2 linked regions of the Homo sapiens genome follow. The protein of the gene in region 1 interacts with the protein of each later gene in a biochemical or structural test. Each region holds a gene or a part of one and is shown in the gene's direction. Other genes may lie near its edges. The genes, in order: IGFBP7 and ST14.

The links.
Region 2: of the proteins of IGFBP7 (region 1) and ST14, one has a biochemical effect on the other in vitro, tested with the Homo sapiens proteins (one study listed by IntAct).

What each region holds. Positions count from the first base shown.
Region 1 is NC_000004.12:57,035,299-57,047,319, reverse strand, and holds part of IGFBP7 (insulin-like growth factor-binding protein 7 isoform 1 precursor), read left to right. Parts: intron 1-6,386; coding exon 6,387-6,496; intron 6,497-12,021. UniProt on the Homo sapiens protein: Binds IGF1 and IGF2 with a relatively low affinity. Stimulates prostacyclin (PGI2) production. Stimulates cell adhesion. Acts as a ligand for CD93 to play a role in angiogenesis.
Region 2 is NC_000011.10:130,202,810-130,213,911, forward strand, and holds the end of ST14 (suppressor of tumorigenicity 14 protein), read left to right. Parts: intron 1-5,600; coding exon 5,601-5,875; intron 5,876-6,632; coding exon 6,633-6,769; intron 6,770-6,852; coding exon 6,853-7,014; 3' UTR 7,015-7,553; downstream 7,554-11,102. UniProt on the Homo sapiens protein: Exhibits trypsin-like activity as defined by cleavage of synthetic substrates with Arg or Lys as the P1 site. Involved in the terminal differentiation of keratinocytes through prostasin (PRSS8) activation and filaggrin (FLG) processing.

The sequences.
Region 1 (12,021 bases):
GCGAAGGAGGAGCAAAGTCACATCTTACATGGCAGCAGGCAGGACAGCATGTGCAGGGGAACTGCCCTTTATGAAACCATCAGATCTCATGAGACTTAGTCGCTATTACGAGAACAGCACAGGAAAAACCTGTCCCCATGATTCAATTACCTTCCACCGCGTACCCCCCAACCCATGACACATGGGAATTATGGGAGCTACAATTTGAGATTTGGGTGGGGACACAGTCAAACCATATCATCCTCTCTCCCTTCTTTCCCTTCAAGGAATGTTCAAAAAGAAGAGACCCTCTAAGGAATGATCAAAAGGAAGAGACACTCTAAAGTTACTGAGCGAGAGTTATAAAAAATAGGGAAGGCAAGAAAATGAATTTAGAGGGTTGAGAAGGATCTAAAGAGATTGAATGAGAATTAATTGAGTGTGTAAGGTAAAAGGAAAGTGGGGTAGCCTGGTTTGGGTACAGTCATCTGGATAGAAAAATGTAGGTAGTCCACCTTGGGTGGACATCTCTTTACATCAGGCAGCACTGCAGATGACTTGGTTGCTTTCTGGAGTTGCCGAGGGTGGGTACAAGGCAGAGGGAGGCAGCGCACAGTCATTTATTCTATGAACAGGATGTTTGCTAGACAGATGTTTGAGCAGTCTGGAGCTCTTAATGGAACAAGGGCAAGGATAAATAAATAATTGGACCTATCCTGATGTTTGTCCCTATACATTTAAGAATTCTGTGACCTGTTTTAAACGGAATCCAAACACTGAGTATGAGTTAGATGATAATGTTGTTATTACCCTTGACCTGGCCTTGAGGACTGATTTTGAGCTTTCTGTATGAGAAAATTAGCTCAGAGTGACCTAAAAATTTCTTTATTCTTAAAAACAGAAATAAATTCTCGATCTGCCTTGCCCTTCTTGGAAGAAAGGTAGAGTGGAAAGAGTTAGAAGTTATTTGGTACAGAGTCATTGAGTACAGTGCTCTCCTGAGGTAGAACAGAACTGTCAGGGATTGAATTGCAGGACAGACCTGCAATTCAAGATGATTGTTGGCAGTGAAATTGCTGATCAATGGAATGTGTGGGATGATAGTTCTTGAGAGTCGGGGAGGAGAGTGCAGCATTGTTGGGGCTGGCATTGTATCCACCGAAAACATTTTCAGCATCTCTTCTCTTCTATACAAGACTTGTCCTCTTGGTGTCCCTGTGGGTCACCATTAAGTCGCTTGCTTATTCTTTCTCACCATGTATCTTCATTTACCTTTCTCTAAAACTTCTGTAATTTGCTTTTATCAAGAGATTTTGGTCGCGTGCAGTGGCTCACACCTGTAATCCCAGCACTTTGGGAGACTGAGGTGGGCAGATCACCTGAGGTCAGGGGTTCAAGACCAGCCTGGCCAACATGGTGAAACCCCATCTCTACTAAAAATACAAAAATTAGCCAGGCATGGTGGCGAGCACCTGTAATTCCAGCTACTTGGGAGGCTGAGGCAGGAGGATCGCTTGAACCCACGAGGCAGAGGTTGCAGTGAGCCGAGATCACACCATTGCACCCTGGGCAACAAGTGCAAAACTCCATCTAAAAAAAAAAAAAAGGAGTTTTTCCATTCCCTCTGCATATTCTGGGGGAATTTCCAGACCAGGTAAGTGGTAAAGAACCAATCAGAGCTTAGTAAATAGGTATCCTACTGGGTATCAGCTCTGAAGAAAGTACTGGAAAGAATGTTGAATCCCTACAGATTCTTCCAACACAGGAAGTCACGTGGAGGCCAACCCGCCTCCATGTACTCTAAGAGGTCTGTTTGGTCCCTTGAATATTACACTAATAATTTATTGATGTGACTTTCCTTTGCAAGAGACTGCATCTCAAAACCAAAAGGCCGTTCTGTAGCCTTATTTCTTAGCACTTTCCAGTTTACGTATTGTTTGTTAAACTTTTCATTGTGTTAGTAAACCCAGCATTTGTTCAAGGATATTTGAAATAGTCAAAGGTTTTTGTAAATGTTGTGCAGCAAACTGGTCCTAACAGCCCCTCCTCTGCCCTTCCACTACATCACCCCAGCAGGAGTCAGTGGATATTATAGATTTTTGTGGTATGGAAGTCTTGTAGAATTCTAGAAATAGCCTGGTGGCAGGATTGACAAAATCATTTACATTCTTAGAATAATCCAAATGTTGACTCAGCCTGTTTACCTAAGGTATTCCAAGCATTGGGAGAGAGAAATAGGAACCCATGATATGATTTGTCCTAATATTGAATCCCCTGACGATGGCTGTCATTCAAAGTATTCCTGGGTTCAGGTATTTTTAAAGAATTCATGGCTGGGCACTGTTGCTAACACCCATAATCCCAGTACTTTGGGAGGCTGAAGTAAGAGGATTACTTGAGCCCACGAGTTTGAGACCAGCCTAGTCAACATAGCAAGACTCTGTCTCTACAAAAATAAAAATAAAAAAAGAATTCTTACTTGTCCTAGAGTGTTCTGCTTCTTGGAATAGTAAGATGATTGGGGGGGAACAGATATATTAGATCTGCCCTCTATTTAGTGCTTCAACTTTAGTACAATTAATTTCTAAATTATGCCATAGTTATTGGTGCAAAGATAGACACATAGACCAGTGGAAAAGAACAGAGAGTCCAGAAATAGACGCACACATATACAGTGGGTCTTACAGATTTCCACAAAGGCATTATTATGATTCATTAGGAAAAAGATGGTCTTTTCAACAAATGGTGCTGAAGCAATTGGATGTCCTTTTAGGGGAGGAAAAATGAAACTTGACCTCTGCCTCATAGCACACACAAAAATTAATTCAAGATGGAGCAAAAACTTAAATGTGAAAAGTAAAACCATAAAGCTTGTAGAAGAAAACAGGAGATCTTCATAGCCTTGGGCTAGGCAAAAATTTTCTTAAACAGGACACGAAAAGCACTAACCACAGAAAAGAAAACTTGATAAATTGGACTATACTAAAACTAAGAACATCTGTTTTAAAATCCCATGGGAAAAATCCATAGCATGTCTTCAAGATCTCTGGCAGAAAATCAGGCTGGAACTTGCCCATTAGCACTCCAGAATCTGCCCCCTGCCCAAGACCGATGACCCTGCTACCTGTATTGGCAATAGGGAGATGGACACAGGTTAAAGTAAGTAGGTTTTGGCAGGGCTGAGGCCCTCAGATCCTCACAATAAAATTGTCTTGCATTCCTTGTGTGGTTTGGATATGAGAGAAGCAGCTTTGTTCCCGAGCTCCCCCTCAAATCTCTGAAAACTGGTATGCTCTTCTCAGAACAATCCTTTGAGATCCCCTGAGCTTTGAAGTCCTCCTGCCAAGTCTGTGTGTGGGAAGGAGAACAGAGCAGCATGAGGGCCATCAGAGAGGTGGGCGAAGGCAGTTCAAAGCCCAGCCAGATCCGGCTCTGTGGTGTCCAAACCCTTGGGGTCCCATAGCCCTAGAGGAAGCCCGGGATAGGGTGAGGCCCAGCCCTTTGCAGGGTTCTGTATTGCTGCATCCAGACTAGGAAATGTCTGAGACAGAGCCAGAAACGTAAATACTGCACCACTGTGCTCACCACATTCATGTTTGCAGCAGAAGAGCCAAGCCCCCTGGCCAGGATATATGCTTCCTATTCAGACCTATGGTTTGGAGGGAAGGAAGCATGAAATGTATTTAGAGCTTTCCAAACTTTTGATTGTTTTGCACATTCCTACAAAAATAAAAATATCCCATGAGATTAAAAAAAATCAGCTTCTAATGCTTTAGATGAGTGGGAAAATCTTGCACACTGGGGTCATTTCCTTTCTGTTTCAAGAAATTAATATTGTGCTGGAAATAGCCTGTTGCAGAAGGGGAGACTTTATGTCCTTTGAATGCTGATTATGCCAGAAAACTTTCCAGTCCTAAAGGGGAGGTTGTCCCTTTCCCAGGACTCTGATGCAAGATGACCCTGCAGTTTGTACTTTGCTAGGATAGGAGACCCAAGTCAGCAGAGATTTAAAATTCAGAAGGGATCATTAATTTATTCATTCAAGAAACCATGCTAAGCATGGAATAAGAGCCAGGTTAGGTTCTGGAGTCTCACACTGCCCCACATGAGGATCCCAGACTGCCAGCTCCATGACCCTCCTCTGCGGACGGTCCCAAGTCTTTCTGAAGGCCCCTGGTGATTGAACCCTGGCATTCAGAATTAGCAGAAGTGACATACTAATTACCAGTAACTAAAAAGTTGGTGTTCACATCTCTATTGCAGATGCCGGGAAGCCAGGCCGTCAGGGGACAGGCGCAGTCAGCAAGCACCCGCTCTCTCGGTATCTGTTGGCTTCCACAGTTTTGTGTTTCAGAGCCAAACCAGAAATCACCCAGGGGGTTACTTGCATCAGCTCTGGAAAATGTGTAAAGGATTGAAGTCCTGAGACTTTCCCATAATGTCTTATTTAGGCATCAGTCTCCCTCAGTTGATTAGAGCAGGAATCAGCAAATTTCTTTATAAAAGGCCAGTGACAGTGACTATTTTAGCCATACAGTCTCAGCCACAACTGCTCTAGCAGCCAGAGACCACAGGAAACAAATAAGTGTGGCTGTGTTCCAACAGAACTTTATTTTATGGACATTTCCTTTACAATTTTCACACGTCATGAAATATCCATCTTTTAATTTTTTTTCAACCATTTGAAACTGCAGGCCGGGCATAGTGGCTCACGCCTGTAATCCCAACACTTTGGGAGGCCAAGGTGGGGGGATCGCTTGAGCTCAGGGGTTCGAGACCAGCCTGGCCAACGTGGCAAAATGCTGTTTCTACTGAAAACACAAAAATTAGCTGGGCATGCACTTGTAGTCCTAGCTACTTGGGAGACTGAGTCATGGGAATTGCTTGAGCTTGAACCCGGGAGGCGGAGGTTGCCGTGAGCCAAGATCATGCCACTGCACTCCAGCCTGAGCAACAGAGTAAGGTTCTGTCTCAAAAAAATAAAATTTTTCTTAATTTAAAAAAACAAAAATCCAAACACCATTCTTAGCTCATAAGCCATGCAAAAACAGATGGCAGGCCAGATTTGGCCCACAGGCCATAGTTAGCTAACCCAGGACCAGAGAGTCATACCACTTTCATAGCAAAAAGGATACACATGGTTTGTGTTGACTCTGAGTAGGGAACTTCTCCAGAGGGTGCCATGATACAGAAGGTGGGGGGTGTGTTCCCTAATTGGGGGAATGGAGAAGCATCATTCTGGCCTCTCTCAGTGGCCCCATACCTGCTGACTCTATTTAGGCCGTGGCTTGAGGGTGCCCCCCACTTGCCAATGCCTCCTGCCAGGGACCTGGACACTGAGAACGCTGGGAAAGGGCCCTCTCCTTGGGGACCCTGGTCACACCCAATAGATCAGTCACTCTTCTTCCTTCTTACCAGCTGCCTCTCCTGAGCACACTGGAAGAAGGACCCCTGTACCACCTTCCTCGACACCCGGGCCTCTTCTGTTCAAAGGTGCCTCCTGGCCAGGCATGGTGGCTCACACCTGTAATCCCAGCAGTTGGGGAGGCTGAGGCAGGAGAATTACTTGAAGCCAGGAATTCGGGACCAGCCTGGGCAACATAGCAAGACCCCGTCTCTACAAAAATAAAAAATAAAAATTAACTGACATGGTGGTGCACGCCTATAGTCCCAGCTACTCGGGAGGCTGGGGTGGGAGGATCGCTGGAGACCAGGAGTTTGAGGCTGCAGTGAGCTATGATCAAGCCACTGCGCTCCAGCCTGGGTGGCAGAATGAGATTCTGTATCAAAAAAATAATAATAAAATTAAATTAAAAATAAAGATGTCCCTTCCAATCCCCTGACGCACACAGCACTCCACATGTTTCTTTTCTTCCCTGCCTCATCACCCTTTTCAACCTTAGATCCTAAGCTTCTTGAGGCAGAGACTTCCATCTTGTCTGGGTGCTTAGCACATTTTCAAATATTCTCTTAGATTTTTTTTCTTCATTACCCATGGAGCGGTTGCTTGTTGCCTTTCCAACCCAAAATAGAAATAGTGGTAAACAAAAGAAGAAAAACATTGAACATTTTGGAACTAAAATTTTATTACTACTGGAAAAGTCCCAGATAATAAAAAAACAGCTGGTAAATTAGCACTCATTTAAGCATGGTCTGGGGAAGAAGAAAATTTTAATAACACATTTTTCTTCCTAATTGTTTTTGTTTGTTTAGATTTATGCATTCCCAAAGTGGACCTTAAAATCATGTTGGTGGCAGGAGGAAGCCAGTGTGGTCTTTGAAATTTGCTTCAGATAATCCATCAAGGGGATGGCCTCATAAACAAAATTATTATTTTCTCCCTAAGATGCTGACTCATGTGAAGGACTGTTTAAAAGATGACTTTGGCTTTGTGCCCTCTCCTGCAGGTCCTTCCATAGTGACGCCCCCCAAGGACATCTGGAATGTCACTGGTGCCCAGGTGTACTTGAGCTGTGAGGTCATCGGAATCCCGACACCTGTCCTCATCTGGAACAAGGTCTGTGGCACAGACTTTAAGAGACATCCTAGGCTGACAAGCTTCTCTTGCACTGCACAAGGATGGTAAAACGTTAAATCCTCAGCCTGCTTTGTTGACTGCGGCTCCCGCAAGGTGAAGCCTTAGGGCAGTCATACAGGCCCCTCCCCTGGATTCATGGAACAAAAACCAGTCCCTGCCATGCTTTTGTTAGCAGCATCCTAGAATCTGAGAAACTGGAAGAACAATAATGCTGAACACCTGAACCCACCTTCAGGGTGTGTGTGCACCTGTGGTGTGTGTATGTGTGTGCATATGTGGGTGCGAGTGAAAGTGTGTGTGTCTGTGTTTGCGCCCTCAGTGGAGACAGTATAGCATAGGGGTTAAAAGCGTACGTTTCTCTCTTTCTGTCCCAAAATACCACCTCCAAGCCCCCACCAAGCTGTTTGTGATGGCATCAGTCTCCTCATTTAAGACTGAACATTTAGCTGATAATTTAGATCCTGTCTGCTTGGAGGCATTATTATTATTTTACTGGGAGGCTCGGCTAAGAAGGTAAAAGGACACAAAGCCCTGTAGCCTTCTCCTGGGAGCATGGATTATTTTTTCAGATTCCCTAAGTGCTGGGAGATGGATGAGTACATTTTAAGGGCACTTGGAAGTAGGATAGAAGGAATGAGGTGGGATCTATTCTCCTAAGTACCAAGGCTGTAGAACCATAAGTTAGGGACAGAGGAGACCACTCCAGAACAGAGCATTAAAAAGGAACAAGAGGAGGAATAGCAAAGAAAAAAATGTCTCCTTTCTGAATTTTGCTAAATGCTGGCCCCAGCCCCAAGTGGAAAAAGCATGATATTCTTTTAATAAATCAGCTTTGAAATGACTTCCCAAATGGAAAAAAAGAAAAAAAAAAGTGTGAGGCTGGGTGCAGTAGCACATGCCTGTAATCCCAGCACTTTGGGAGGCTGAGGCAGGAGGATCACTTGAGTCCTGGAGTTTGAGACCAGCCTGACCAACACAGTGAGACTTCCTTCTTACAAATAATTTTTTTAATTAGCTGGGCATGGTGAGGCATGCCTGTGGCCCCAGCTACTCAGGAGACTAAGGTGGAAGAACCCCTTGAGCCAGGAGATTGAGGCTGCAGTGAGCTGTGATTGCCCCACTGCACTCTAGCCTGTCTCAAAAAAAAAAAAAAAAAAAAGAGTGTGAATTCCTTAGCCAGGGTGGCTGAGTTCTCTGCAAGTCAGGGTTTCTCAGCCTCAGCACTATTGACATTTGGGGCCAGATAATTATTTGTTGTGCGGGCTGCCTGTGCTTTGGAAGATGTTTAGCAGTATCCCCAGCCTCTACCCACTATATAACAGTAGCATTCCCCCATCCCCCCTGTCGTGAGAATTAAAAGCATCTTCAGACATTGCCAAATGTCCCCTAAGGGTGTGGAGCTGGGGAATTGCCCTGGACTGAAAACCACTGCTGTTAGCCTCAACTCTGTTCTCTACCTTATAAAAGTAGCATGTAATTATCATAAAGATGAAATAAAGTAATGCAAGTAAAAATTACTTGATACATAGTTAGCACTCAGTAGACATTAGCTACTGTTCCTGGAAATTTTTCCCTTCAAGTGGCATTATCTTGTATAATTATCTTCATATTTGAAGGACAACATCATCTCAGCATGTATGGAGAAGGGAAAAGAAAACACTTATTTGCCATCAACTAACACCTCACAATTATACCATACACTTACGTTTTTGTCTTTTTTTTTTTTTTTTTTTTTTTGAGACATAGTTTCACTCTTATTGCCCAGGCTGGAGTGCAATGGCACCATCTCGGCTCACCGCAACCTCGCCTCCCGGGTTCAAGTGATTCTTCTGCCTCAGTCTCTCAAGTAGTTGGGATTACAGGCACCCGCCACCACGCCTGGCTAACTTTGTATTTTCAGTAGAGACAGGGTTTCTCCATGTTGGTCAGGCTGGTCTCGAACTCCCGACCTCAGGTGATACGCCCACCTTGCCCTCCCAAAGTGCTAGGATTACAGGTGTGAGCCACCGCGCCTGGTCGTTTTTGTCCTTTTTATACATTTTGAATTGCTGAGCCTCACAACTATCCTACGAAAAATAAAAATTAAAAAATTATCAAACTCATGCTACCAAAAAAGGAACTTAGTTTAAGTAAAAGGGCATAACCAGACATCCATTTTAAGCTGCCTTACTTCTCCAGCAAGCTCTAAGGTGGATGATAGTCTCCCTTGACTATTTTGTTTGCTCTCTGTGTGACCGGAGAAGCAACTTCTAGAACTCCAGGAGGACTGTGGCTCCCGCAGTCGGAGCTCTTTCTGTTGCAAGTTCTACCAGCCCATTTGAAACCAGCCTAGGCAAAACAAAAAGCGGGGCGGGATCCAGCCTCAAGGGCCCCTGCATCCAGGTACACACGCCATCAGAACTCTAACTCTTGACTCTTTGCTCTCAATATACTAGTCTCATTTTCTTCTGCTTCAGAAAGCTTCCTATGCAGTGGGAGATATCAACTCCACTCACATTTTTATTACAGCTTAAAGACCCCAGAGGAAAGAAAGGGCTTCCCTTCTCCCTGCTGCATTGTGAAAATCCCACGAAGGGCTCAAGCCCAGGTCGGGTCACCTGCTAAGCTCTGGCTCCCCCATGCGGCCGGAGGGATGCGGCCACTGACATTGGCACCGGCGTGAATCCGCCTGGTTTGTGTAAAATCTGGGAACAGGTACCAGAAAATGCCTGAGGTGGGGGTGATGGCAGAGGCAACACTACTATACCATCCTTTACAGTGAAGCTTCTCTTAAAGGAGCAATAAAATTTCACCCCGATCAGTTATGTTTTTAAGAGGAAGGCGGAGCAAGAGTAAGAGCAGAAATGCAGTCCGTGGATGGGTTCCCCTCCATCCTTACTGCAAGAACTGCAGGCGTTCCTCACTGCTAATTTGGAGATTGCTGGTTTGCTCAGGGTGTGGGGAGGTGGAGAAATAATGTTCCGAGGAATACCCATGAAAAGCTCCGTTGCAGTTCTCTACAGTTTTCTAGGGATACTTACACAATGAGAAGCGAGGGTCACCCAAGCGTCCTGGGGCATGTGACCTTATTGGCAAATCTTGGCAAAGAATAATTTCTTCAGTCCTTGCTCTACCCAATCCCAGCTACAGTATTCACATACCAGAGGAATACGTCTGCCTCGGGAATCTTTTCCCTTTTAGGACTGTACAGGGCAGATCCCAATAGACAAGGCCTCCCTGAGTGCTTGTCCTCAGGGCTAGTCAGAAACACCAAGGCAGTTGAGGCTGGTGTGGTGGCTCGCACCTGTAGTCCCTAGCCACTCGGGAGGCTGAGGTGGGAGGATCGCTTGAGCTCAAAAGGTGGGGCTGCAGTGAGCTATGATGGCACCACTGCACTCCAGCCTGGGCAACAGAGCAAGATCCTGTCTCTGAAAAAAAAAACCAAAAAACCCACTATGTCAGTCAACGAGATGGGTGCTGAAGTAAAGAAGTGAAGAGGAAGTAGGAGAGAAACAATTTTTTCTGCAGACTTTCCAGAACAAGCAAAACCCAACTGTGATGCTCTGCCGGTTTTCCTCTACCTTCATAATGTAATTTGCCACATGCATGACCCAAAGCAATGTTTCTTACACTGCAGACCATGACCCATCAGTGACTCCTGGAACTAATGTAGCGATCACAACCACCATGTTCTTATAAAAAATAAAAAATAGAACAGAACCTATGTTAAGGCATCACACTTACCACTTATGAAGGTGTCATTTCCTAAAACTTTTGTATATTCCAGATATACGATAGTTTGGTCCATGTCAAAACTAAGGAAACTTGGGAAGTCACTGACCTAAATAATTAAACAGGGTATTTGTTTTCTCATCGCTGTCCTTGTAACCAGACTGTTAAGAATACAAACATATTTACTATCATGTGTGTTTCAAATCCAATTTAAGAGTAGAACACCTTTTTGGATAGATTATTAGAATCCTCACTTGTAAAACAAGAGAAACTGAGGCTCAAATAAAGACAGCATGTCCTTCTTGCTCAAGGATTCTTAGCAACAGCAGAATTAATGGTACAAGCCTTTTCTCCATGACACTTGAGACTACGGTGGCAATTCTTACGGTTGGCACAGCCTGGCGAGTGGTCTTTACTTTCCTTACTGGTAGTAAGGAAAGCTGGCTTTAACAAGCCCCATACCTTTCAGCAAACTCCTAGCCTAGAAAGATTCGAAGGGCAATATTTTGAAATGGGAACGTGAACTGAAATAGCCATATTTGACTTAACCCTTTTAAATCAAAGATGATGCTCACAGCGAAAGCAAAACACCTTCCCAATATTTGTTTCTGAGACGGAGAGGCTCTCTGTTTAATTCTTTTCTTGCCTGAATATTTCTTCAGATTAGGGCTTCCTTGACCTCTAAGAATATTTTTTAATCAAAAATAGTGACCTCTAAGGTAATAGTAATAAGCAGAAATTATCCAAAGACGTATAAAGAAAGAGTTGAGAATCTCCCCCCACCTCCTCCTCCTGCCTGAGGTAACCAATGTGAACTGCCCTGGTTTGTATCTTTCCACACTCTTTTTCATATCCAAGCATATTCAAACATATATCCCTACGGTGAAATGAGAATATAGTGTGCCAGTAAATTATTCTGAAACTCGCTTTTCTCAACAAATACTTCATGGACATCCGTCCAAGTCTGCTTCTCAACAGCTACGTAATATTCCAAGTATGAATACTGTAATTTATTAAATCAGTTCTGTATTTTTTCTGTTGTTTCCAAATTTTTGTTAACTTAAAAAACCTACTTTAAGCATCAAAGTACACATATCATACATACTAGTGATTGTATTGCTATAAGATAGATTCCCCAACAGTTACCTAAGTCAAAATATTTGTTTCAGTGTTAACAGACATTGTCAGATTACTTTCTAAATAGATTGTAGTAATTCACACTCCCACCAGAAATGGAGAAGTGCCATTTCTCTGCATCTTTACTAGCACTGAATATTAACCTCTCTTTTTTAGTTTTAATTCCAATTTTAACTAGAAAACACATATTTATTGGCCAGGCACAGTGGCTCATGCCTGTAATCCCAGCACTTTGGGAGGCCAAGGCAAGTGGATCACTTAAGGTCAGGAGTTCGAGACCACCCTGGCCAATATGGCAAAACCCCGTCTCTACTAAAACTATAAAAATTAGCCAGGCGTGGTGGCACATGCCTGTAATCCCAGCTACTCGGGAAGCTGAGGCAGGAGAATCACTGGAATCCCGGAGGCGGAGGCAGAGGTTGCAGTGAGCTGAGATCGCACCACTGCACTCCACCCTGGGTGACAGAGCGAGACTCTGTCTCAAAAAAAAAAGAAAACACATACTTAACAACACTTAGAATCCCCTTACACGAATAAGGGAGAGTTTGACATATAAAAATTTGTCATATGAAAATTCTTGGCACTTTTTTCTATGTTTTCTACATGATGTATAACCTTTTATAATTACGTAACATTAATTAAAATACGCCATGCCA
Region 2 (11,102 bases), on another chromosome or scaffold:
CATCTTAAAAAGCGCGACCCTACCTCACAGGACTGTTTCAGGGATAAAACAACTTACTGTGTCAGCATCGAGAATTGTGCTTGGGACATCAGAAGTTCTACCTGAGCACTAGCGATTCCCAACTGCACTCCAGCCCCTGGGGTCACCATGGGGGATATCAGTGGCTGCATCTTCACAATCAGTCTCTCAGCTGCTGGTAGACGTGCATGCCTTAAACGTTAGAGGCTGAGTCTGCTGATAGAATCAAATACTGTCAGACTTACCGATTGGCTGGGTTTGCAGACAGGGCTTCATGAAAGCGGGGTCTTGAGCTGAGGTCGCCAGGTGAACAGGGCGGGCTTGGAGGAGGGAGGTGGAAACCCGCAGGCACAGGGCAAAGAGCTGGATGGGGGTGTCCATGCTGAGTGTTGGGGTCACGGGGAATTGAGCTAGAGGGACAAGGATGGCTCTCCCCTCTCCCCCGTCCCATGAGACCCTTTCAGCTACATGCTCGCCTCCTGGGTGTTCCTGAAACATCTCTACTCTCTTCTATCTGCACTGCCACCACCTTGCTCGTCCTAGCTCACTGTAGCCTGGGCAGCTGCAGCACCCTCCCCATCTACTTCCTTCCCTCTCAGGACTCTGGTCTGCACCACTCGAGCCCAGAGGGGCCTTCCCCAAATCTGATCACCCCAATCTCTTGCTTCAGCGCCTGCCACGGCTTGCAGTATAAAGCAGGAACTCCTTCACGACCGACACGGCCACGTTATCTGGCCCCTGCCCGTCCGTGCAGTCTCAGTCTCCAGTGCAGTCCTCATGCCTTCCCCATGCTCAGTGTGAGGGTTTCCTAAATGTGCCTTTGCTCTTTTTTCTTTTTTTTTGAGACCGAGTTTCACTTTTGTTGCCCAGGCTGGAGTGCAATGGCGCGATCTCAGCTCACTGCAACCTCCGCCTCCCGGGTTCAAGCAATTCTCCTGCCTCACCCTCCCGAGTAGCTGGAATTACAGGCATGCGCCACCGTGCCCGGCTAATTTTTTGTACTTTTAGTAGAAACGGGGTTTCACCATGTTAGCCAGGCTGGTCTTGAACTCCTGACCACGGGTGATCTGCCTGCCTTGGCCTCCCAAAGTGCTGGGATTATAAGGTGTGAGCCACCACGCCCGGCCACCTTTGTTCTCTTTAAACATGCGGCATTCTCCACCCCTTCAGGCCATAGGTGGCCAGGCCTACGTGATGTCGAGGCTTGGTTCATAACTCACTTCGTTTCCGGACTCCCAGCCCATCCTCTCCCACAGCTTTCTACCCAGTCCTCTGTGGGACCCTTCTTGTCACGCTGTAATTGGTGGTTTTCATATCTCTCCACATGTACACTGTGAACCTGAAGGCTGGGTCATAGATCGCATCACAGATGCCCAGAGATTGTTGAGTGAATGAGTTGATGGGGGTTGAGTACGTGGCTGGATGTGAGCAGGCTGGGAAACTGTTAGAAAGGTCAGGTCGATTAACAGTGAACGCAGAAGGCCTGGGTGGGTCACAAGACCTCACCTGGCAACTCTTGGGAATTCTTTTAGGCTGTGGAATGGGACGCAAAGGATCTCACAAAAACAGCTTTTGGGAAGTCATTTTCTGGTGGCAACAGATTACAGTGAAGCGAGATTGGGCATAGCCTAGGTTGGAAAACTGAGCTTTGGCCTTGGCGTGCGATTCCGTGGGGAGGTGGCTGTAAGAAAGGCCAGAAGGGGGCCTGGCGCGGTGGCTCATGCCTATAATCCCAGCACTTTGGGAAGCCGAAGCAGGCAGATCACCTGAGGTCAGGAGTTCGAGACCAGCCTGACCAACATGGTGAAACCCCATTTCTACTAAAAATACAAAAATTAGCTGAGCATGGTGGCATGCACCTGCACTCCCAGCTACTTGGGGGCGGCTGAGGTGGGAGGATCGCTTGAGTCTGGGAGGCGGAGGTTGTGGTGAGCCAAGATCATGCCACTACACTCCAGCCTAGGCAACAGAGTAAGACTCCATCTCAAGAAAAAAGAAAGGCCAGAAGGTGATGGACGCTGGGGCAGTGAGAGTGGACCAGGGCTCGGGTGGGCACGCGAGTGATGTGGAGGCAGAGGCTGGGTTTAGTGCTCCGGGGTCGGGGAGGTGCCCTGGCTGGGTGGTTCAGTAACCTTTTGACCTTCCTGAGAGGTGAGGGAAAATGAAGCGGGTCTTCATGCCTTTCTCTTGTCACGCACATTTTCTATTTTAAATATGTATTTTTCCAATGTTTTATTTTGAAATTTTTCAAACCTACAAAAATGTTGTAAATACAATGAATGAAAAAAAGGACTAGTACAGTGAACACTTTTTTTTTTGAGACAGAGTCTCACTCTGTCCCCAGGCTGGAGTGCAGCAGCGTGATCTCAGCTCACTGCAACCTCTGCCTCCCGGCTTCAAGCAATTCTCCTGCCTCAGCCTCCGGAGTAGCTGGGACTACAGGTGTGCGCCACCTTGCCCGGCTAAATTTTTGTATTTTTAGTGGAGATGGGGTTTCACCATGGTGGCCTGCCTGGTCTCGAACTCGTGACCTCGTGATCCCCCCATGCCTTGGCCTCCCAAAGTGCTGGGATTACAGGTGTGAGCCACCGCACCTGGCTGTACAGTGAACACTCTTATACCTTTGATCTACATTCAGTGATTGAGTTAATCACGTTTGCTTTCTCTCTGTTTGCACCCGCATGTATTTTTCAGAACCATTTCCCAACTGGGGGCAGCCATTGTGAGGCTTCCCACCAGGTGCCTCGGCCTGTGTCTCCAAAAACACGGATGCTGTCCCACACTGAGAAATGGCGGCATTGCTTTGTGCTGCGAGCTGACGTACGCGTCATAAATGTCCTCCAATCATGCCCATCATGTTCTTCTTTAGACGTTTTTTTTTTTGTTTTTTTTTTTGAGACGCACTCTTTCGCCCAGTCTGGAGTGCAGTGGCACAATCTAAGCTCACTGCAACCTCCACCTCCCAGGTTCAGGTGATTCTCTTGCCTCAGTCTCCTGAGTAGCTGGAATTACAGGCACCTGCCACCACGCCTGGCTAATTTTTGTATTTTTAGTAGAGACGGGGTTTCACCACGTTGGCCAGGCTGGTCTCAAACTCCCAACCTTGTGATCCTCTCGCCTGGGGCTCCCAAAGTGCTAGGATTACAGGCGTGAGCCACCATGCCCAGCCTTCTTCGGAGCTTTTTAAAAAAAGTCCTAGGATGCAGTCAAGGGTCACGCCTTGTATTTAGTCATTAGGTTTCTTTAACCTCATTTTAATCAAGAACAGTTTCTCTACGCCTTTTATTTTTTGGTTTTTTATGGCATTGACATTTTTGAAAAGTTCGGGCCAGTTATCTTACAGGATGCCTCTCAATTTGGGTTTTCCCGACTGTGTTTTCATGGCTGAGTTAGGAAGCAGTGCGCGGGCGGTGCTGTACCCTACTCGGGGAGAGCAGGATCCCCCGTGAAGGGGGCTGGTCGGGAGAGGAGGCTGAGCACCTGGCTCGGGACGCCCAACAGGTTTCGCCATCATAAAGGGGCTTCCCCCTTGGTCGTGACTACACTGCAGGTGATTCTTTGAATCAGCGTGAGTGTCTCGTTCTCCAGCCGTACTTTGCCCGGCGTCTCAGCGTCCGTTGGTGATTCTCACATTGTTGATTATTATTGTGGCAGGCGCGAATGTGGTTCCTTATTGTACCGTTTCTTCAGCATTTAGGGGCTGCTCACTCTTTCTTTCTTTCTCTTTCTCTTTTCTTTTCTTTTTTTTTTTCTTTTTTGAGGTGGGGTCTCACTGTGTTGCCCAGGCTGGAGTTCAGTGGTGCGATCTTGGCTCACTGCAACCTCTGCCTCCTGGGTTCAAGCAATTCTCCTGCCTCAGCCTCCTGAGTAGCTGGGATTACAGGCACCGGCCACCACACCTGGCTAATTTTTGTGTTTTTGGTAGAGGCGGGGTTTCACCATGCTGGCCAGGCTGGTCTTGAACTCCTAACCTCAGGCGATCCACCCACCTCGGCCTCCCAAAGTGCTTGGATTACAGGAGTGAGCCACCATGCCCGGCCAGGGGCTGCTTTTTCTCTGTAAAGAATAGCTTTCCTTTTCCCTGTATAAATTCTTTTGAAATTACTTTTTAGACTCAGGGTGGACTGATGGATTACCCCACCCTTTTTTATTATTCCACCTGTGTAGTAGTGTCACCCTGTCACCACTTATTTCGGGGTTCTTATTGTCCTAACTTTAGCCAGCTTTGTGAGGCCGCATTGCTGTTTGAGTGCTCGATCGCTTCCTGCAGAAACAAAATGTTCCAGGTTGCTTTATGCTTCCCATTAAGCCCCAGATCCGAAATCAGCTGTTTTTCCAAGGAGCCCTGGTTCCTTTCAATAGAGAAGGATATTTAGACACTAAGTTCTGGGTGCTGCTGGAGACAGTATTGGTTTTAGGCCAGTTTTTAAGAATTGTGAGCCAGCGGGCACGGTGGCTTATGCCTGTAATTCCAGCACTTTGGGAGGCCAAGGTGGGCTGGTCGTTTGAGGTCAGGAGTTTGAGACCAGCTTGGCTAACATGGCGAAACCCCGTTTCCACTAAAAATACAAAAATTAGCCAGGCGTGGCTGCACATGCCTGTAGTCCCAGCTACTCGGGAGGCTGAGGCAGGAGAATCGCTTGAACCTGGTAGGTGCAGGTTACAGTGAACTGAGATCACACCTCTGTACTCCAGCCTGGGTGACAGAGTGAGACTTCGTCTCAAAAAATAATAATAAAATAAAATAAAAACCATGAACCTTTCCTGATATCTCTGATCTCATTCCACATCTGTGCCTCCCTTTCCCCCCAGTGGGGTGGGCTCCGGCTCTGCAGTGCACGTGGAAAAGCTTCTGAATTGCTAAACCTATTCCATAGCCAGCAACAAACTTAGACACAACACAACATATTTTTCAATTCATTTTGGTCTTAGGTTATATAGCACTACATTAAAAATTTATTTGGGCTGGGCGTGGTGGCTCACGCCTGTAATCCCAGCGCTTTGGGAGGCCGAGGCGGGCGGATCACAAGGTCAGGAGATCGAGACCAGCCTGACCACCATGATGAAATCCCGTCTCTATTAAAAATACAAAAATTAGCTGGGTGTGGTGGTGTGCACTTGTAATCCCAGCTACTCAAGAGGCTGAGGCAGGATAATCGCTTGAACTCGGGAGGTGGAGATTGCAGTGAGCCGAGATCATGCCACCACCGCACTCCAGTCTGGGTGACAGAGCGAGACTCAGTCTCAATAAATAAATAAATAAATAAATTATTTGGATTGATTGTTCTGTTATTCCTCCTGTGAAAGATCAGGTTCGTAAGATAACTAATTTTTGGTCATCAGATTAAAAATGTATTCAAGGAAGGGGGGGTAAAGAGTTCAAGAGGGATTTCATACTGCAGCTGGAGGCACTTAGTAGTTTCTAGCTTAGGGTCAAGACCAAGTAAGAGCCGGCCCCATCGTCTTCTCGTAGCAGCAGCTGTGCCTCATCCATGCGGAATCCTCTGGGAACGCGCGGGGCCGCGAGGCCGTGTGCACAGACCCGAGTGACCGCGCAGTCTCATAGCGGCTCTCCCTACCAGGTACTCAGACCCCACGCAGTGGACGGCCTTCCTGGGCTTGCACGACCAGAGCCAGCGCAGCGCCCCTGGGGTGCAGGAGCGCAGGCTCAAGCGCATCATCTCCCACCCCTTCTTCAATGACTTCACCTTCGACTATGACATCGCGCTGCTGGAGCTGGAGAAACCGGCAGAGTACAGCTCCATGGTGCGGCCCATCTGCCTGCCGGACGCCTCCCATGTCTTCCCTGCCGGCAAGGCCATCTGGGTCACGGGCTGGGGACACACCCAGTATGGAGGTAAGCTTCGGGCTGACCTAGGGCTCCGCAGAGGGCCTGGGGCCTTTCTCCAAGGCCGTGTTTCCTCTGCGTGTCCGGTCTCGGGGCGGGGGGCTGCTCCAGTCTCCCTCTGCCTGGCAGAATGAGGCTGTCCAGGGCGGAATGGAGGCCTTTAGTAAAAGGGGCATGGGATTTGCAGCCTGGGCTCAGGATTGAAGGTTGGCTTTGCCCCTAACTAGCTGAGTGACCTTGAGCGAGTTGCTTAAGCTCTGATCCTGTTTGTGCATGCGCGTAATGAAGATAGCAACACCTTAAGCCCAGTGGTGCTTAAGGCACGTGAGGGGGTGGGTATGAAGGGAAGCAGGCCGTTAGTTGGCAAATGCTAGATTGAAAGAATCCACTGTACAGCATATGCTGAACATTTGTCGTCTTTGGAGAGGAAAGAAAACGAACAGGACTTACAGCTCCAATGCCCTCACAGAACCCCGCGGGCATTTGCGGCGCCTTCCCTCCGCCTCTCTGCTTCTTGTTCCCTCACCCCTGCTTGCCACGGCGTCTGTTCCCTCTCAACTCGCCTGGCAGATCTCAGCATGCCCCTGCTTCCTCTAGGTGGCTGCTATTGCCAGAGCCCACTGAGTAGACGCGGATTACCCGTTTGTCAGCCCCGGGCATCTGGGCTGTTCCAGAGTTTTCTAGTCCAATGACCCGTGGGGAGCGTCTCGAATGACGCTGCCCTCGAAGCAGCCCGGCTCTCAGCCCCGTCCTGCCCTCTCCCCAGGCACTGGCGCGCTGATCCTGCAAAAGGGTGAGATCCGCGTCATCAACCAGACCACCTGCGAGAACCTCCTGCCGCAGCAGATCACGCCGCGCATGATGTGCGTGGGCTTCCTCAGCGGCGGCGTGGACTCCTGCCAGGTGGCCCCCGGGGCAGGAGGGCGGCAGGTGGGCCCCGGGAGAGGCGGGACTGGGGACTCACGGCAGGGCTTGTCTCCGCCCAGGGTGATTCCGGGGGACCCCTGTCCAGCGTGGAGGCGGATGGGCGGATCTTCCAGGCCGGTGTGGTGAGCTGGGGAGACGGCTGCGCTCAGAGGAACAAGCCAGGCGTGTACACAAGGCTCCCTCTGTTTCGGGACTGGATCAAAGAGAACACTGGGGTATAGGGGCCGGGGCCACCCAAATGTGTACACCTGCGGGGCCACCCATCGTCCACCCCAGTGTGCACGCCTGCAGGCTGGAGACTGGACCGCTGACTGCACCAGCGCCCCCAGAACATACACTGTGAACTCAATCTCCAGGGCTCCAAATCTGCCTAGAAAACCTCTCGCTTCCTCAGCCTCCAAAGTGGAGCTGGGAGGTAGAAGGGGAGGACACTGGTGGTTCTACTGACCCAACTGGGGGCAAAGGTTTGAAGACACAGCCTCCCCCGCCAGCCCCAAGCTGGGCCGAGGCGCGTTTGTGCATATCTGCCTCCCCTGTCTCTAAGGAGCAGCGGGAACGGAGCTTCGGGGCCTCCTCAGTGAAGGTGGTGGGGCTGCCGGATCTGGGCTGTGGGGCCCTTGGGCCACGCTCTTGAGGAAGCCCAGGCTCGGAGGACCCTGGAAAACAGACGGGTCTGAGACTGAAATTGTTTTACCAGCTCCCAGGGTGGACTTCAGTGTGTGTATTTGTGTAAATGAGTAAAACATTTTATTTCTTTTTAGGTAAGTTTCTTTTCCTACTGGAGTTGCGCCCTCCTTCCTCCTTTTTCCTACTCGATTTGCAAGAAATTGGATGTACATTCCCCTCAGCACAGACCCTGGAGTCAGGCTGGGTGGGGCCCACAGTGCCGTTGCCTTCTCTAGGCCAGCAAGGGGCTGGTTTTGCTCTGACCTGTAGCTTCCAAGACCAGGGGCCTGGTGCCCTGGTAGGAGGGAAATGCGGGTTGGCGAGGTGGGGAGACGAATGTTGGGGGGTGCACTGGTGCCCAGGCCTGGGTCCAACCTAGGAGAGGGAGGAGCTTTGTCAGAGGAAGATGGGCGGAAGCGTGGCTTCGTGTTTGGTGGGGAGGTGGCCCTGTGAGCGCACACACTCACGGGGACAGATGTGAGTCTGGGCATGAAGACCTGGCTGTCTCTCTAGTGAAGGCTGAGCAGATGGGTCCCAAGGCCTTGGAGGAGGGGTGCTGCCTGGCTGAAGGGCACCCACACCTCCCGTGCCATCCCCCTTGATTTTTTCTTTTTTCTTTTTTTTTTTTTTTTGAGTCAGGGTCTTGCTCTGTCACCCAGGCTGGAATGCAGTGACATGATCACAGTTCATTGCAGCCTCAGTCTCCTGGGCTCAAGCTATCCTCCTGCCTCAGCCTCCTGAGCAGCTGGGACTAGAGGTGCCCACCACCACACCTGGCTAAGTTGTTTTTTTTTTTTTGTACAGACAGGGTCTCACTATGTTTCCCAGGCTGGTCTCGAACTCCTGGGCTCAAGTCATCTTCCCGTGTTGGGCTCGTGCTGAGCCACCACCCCCAGCCTCCCTAGATTTTTACTTAATAATTTAAAATATTTCCTCTCTTCTTGCTTGGTGGCCTGAAGGGACAATGTCAACAATCTGGGGAAGGCTTAGGGAGCTTTTGGGGGAACATTTGAGGGCTTCTTGTATGCTGATGCGCCACATGGGCTTGGGGCAGGGAAGAGGACCTGGGGAGAGAAATGACATGGCCAGTGTCAGGAGGGCAGAAGGTAGCCTTGGCTCACCGCTATGTCCCCAGCTCAGGCTTGTCTTAGAACATGCTGATATGTGTTTGTTCAATGAATGGTTTTTTGCCTGCCATGAGTTATGGAAACAAAAAGGAGGAAATATAGTCTGATTGGAGCAACACTGCAAGGCTTCTCGGGGGAGGTGGGGTTTGCAGAGCCTCTTTCATTTTAGCCTGAGTGTTTTACCTCTTTGAGGGAGGGAGTGTTGCCTAGAACCTGTGCGAGAATCTGTCGCATTTTCCTCCCTGGGGAGGGAAAGAACATCTGTTCTTACCAAGGCGTGGGAAGTAGAATGAGGATGATGCTGAAGGACTCCTGTGCGTGTTGTAAATGTCATTCCTTTTCTGCCCTGACATGGTCATTCCCACCTGATCGCATCGGACAGAAGTGCCCAGTGCAGGCGCTGAGGGAATGGTCTATGTTAAATGGAGAGGTTTCACGAGGCCTGTGTGTGGTCTGGTTCCTAAGTGTGCGTGAGCCTGGCAGCCGGGGCTTGGCCGGGGTGTAGACATGGTCATCCATGCAGTGGGATTCAGGGAGGCCAGCCCAGCCCGTGCCACTGCACCACCCTCAGCTCCATTGTGGCTTGACAGTGTTCTGGACTGCTCACTCCCCCCGGTCAGATTCCCACCCGGGGAGCAGGTGAAAACACAGATGGCTAGCCTTCAGGGTCATCCCACCCTTTCCGGGACTCTCTGCGGGAGGTCTGAGTGGGACAAGGCGTGTCGTCTGTGGCAGTGTTTCTCTCGGGAGGTCCCTGGGCAGGAATATCGAGATCTCCTGGGACTCATAGGTGCAGAGTCTCATGCTTCATCCAGACCTCCTGAACAGAAACTGGTGGGCCCGCTGGGTGGGGCCAGTGGCCTGTGCTCTAAGAAGCGTTCCTGTGAGGTTGGAGAGCACCGTTTTAGCAGTGGGTCATGCCATTCCAAGTGCCACGGAGCAGCAGCATCACCAGGTGCTCCATCAGATGCCCAGAGCCGCAGTTTGCAGGACATCCTTGGTCCTTGGGGGATCCTGGAAGCCTGCCTGAATGTCGAGAAGCATTTGAGCCCTGGAAAATCAATCATGTGTCAGTGCCTTTAAAAAGATTATGGGGCCAAATCCTGTGTTACTTCTGGCTGGAGTTCAGAAGATCAGGCTGAGACTCCCTAACTCGCCAGAGGCCAGACACATCACGCAGGCCCCGCGCCGATAGCTCTCACGAAGGCAGAAGTCTCTGGTCCAAGAGCCTGAGCTGACAGGGTGGGAATACCAGCAGGCTAGAGCCATTCCTCCTTGCTGAGGATGGCAGTCCAGACCTGCAGCAGCTGGGAGAGGCCAGAGGCCTGCGTAGGTCTGTGCTGACCAGCCTTTCCTTCACCCAGGTGAAGGCCACAGCAGAGGTCTGAAGGGTTAGAGGAGGAGGTGGGAGGGCCAGGCTGAGGGCCCCACGTGCACAGGTGCCCTGCACAGCAAGCTGGCCTCACAGGGGAAGAGTGCAGGGCTGCTGCTGCGCTCCCACAAGCTCAGTGCAGCCCCGCAGAGGCTTTCCCCTACTGACTAGCTGCTTTCGTTGCTGAGATCTCAAGATGATCCAACTCTCTGATCCCCCTAAACTACCTTGTATCGCCATTGTTTTAGCTAGGAATCATAACCATGTAAATTTAATGAAAATTTAACCCGACTCCTGCTTATTGCAGCCATGGCGAGTCCTACTCAGACCTAGAGTCTGCAGGAATCACAGTGAAATTTGGATTAGGAAGGACTTTATGGAAAAGGAAATGTTTAAAATCCTGGGCCCAGTTTGGAGGTCTCCAGAGACCTAGCGCTACGGACCCCAGGGGCTGAGAAGCTGTTGTTCAGGTCGACGGCCACACGGTGGCGATGTTGCGCCGTTCCAGGGCGTGGGCGCTCACGGGTGGGGCGGGGTGTCCGGGGCCGTCTGTTGTTGGCGGCTGCCTTCTGCTGCTTCCCAGTCACCTTTCAGGTAGTGAAATCGGTGCCTGGCTCAGGGTGAGCATGGAAGAGGCCCCCAGCCTGAAGCCTTTCCTGGCCAGCCCTTCAGCCCCTTTAGTGCCCCCACCTCCAGTCTGTAGCCAGGACCTGCTGGCTCTCTGGCATTGGGGCCTGGAGGACACATTCTCAGGGCAGGCTCTAAAGATGGCTTTTGAGATTGAGGACAGAGTGGTGACCTGTGGATGGCCACCAAGGTGGTGCCATCTCTAAGTGGAACTTTATCCCATGAGACACAACCGGCCCCAGAGACAACTGTGCAGGGCCATTTACCACACGTGGGCATGTCTGTCCATACACATGTACACAGGTATTCTGGGGGCAGAGGGGTGTGTACGTGCGTGCGTGTGCTTGCGTGTGTGTGCGCGTGTGTGTGTGTGTTGGGGATTGTGCAGTCCTGGAATAGACGGATTAGAATGTGCCACAAGAACATGACCTGGCTGCTACACCAGACGCCGTCTCCCTCCCCAGGAGCACCTGAGGGGCCTACAGACCCAAAGTTAGGTGCCTGTGACCAAACATTG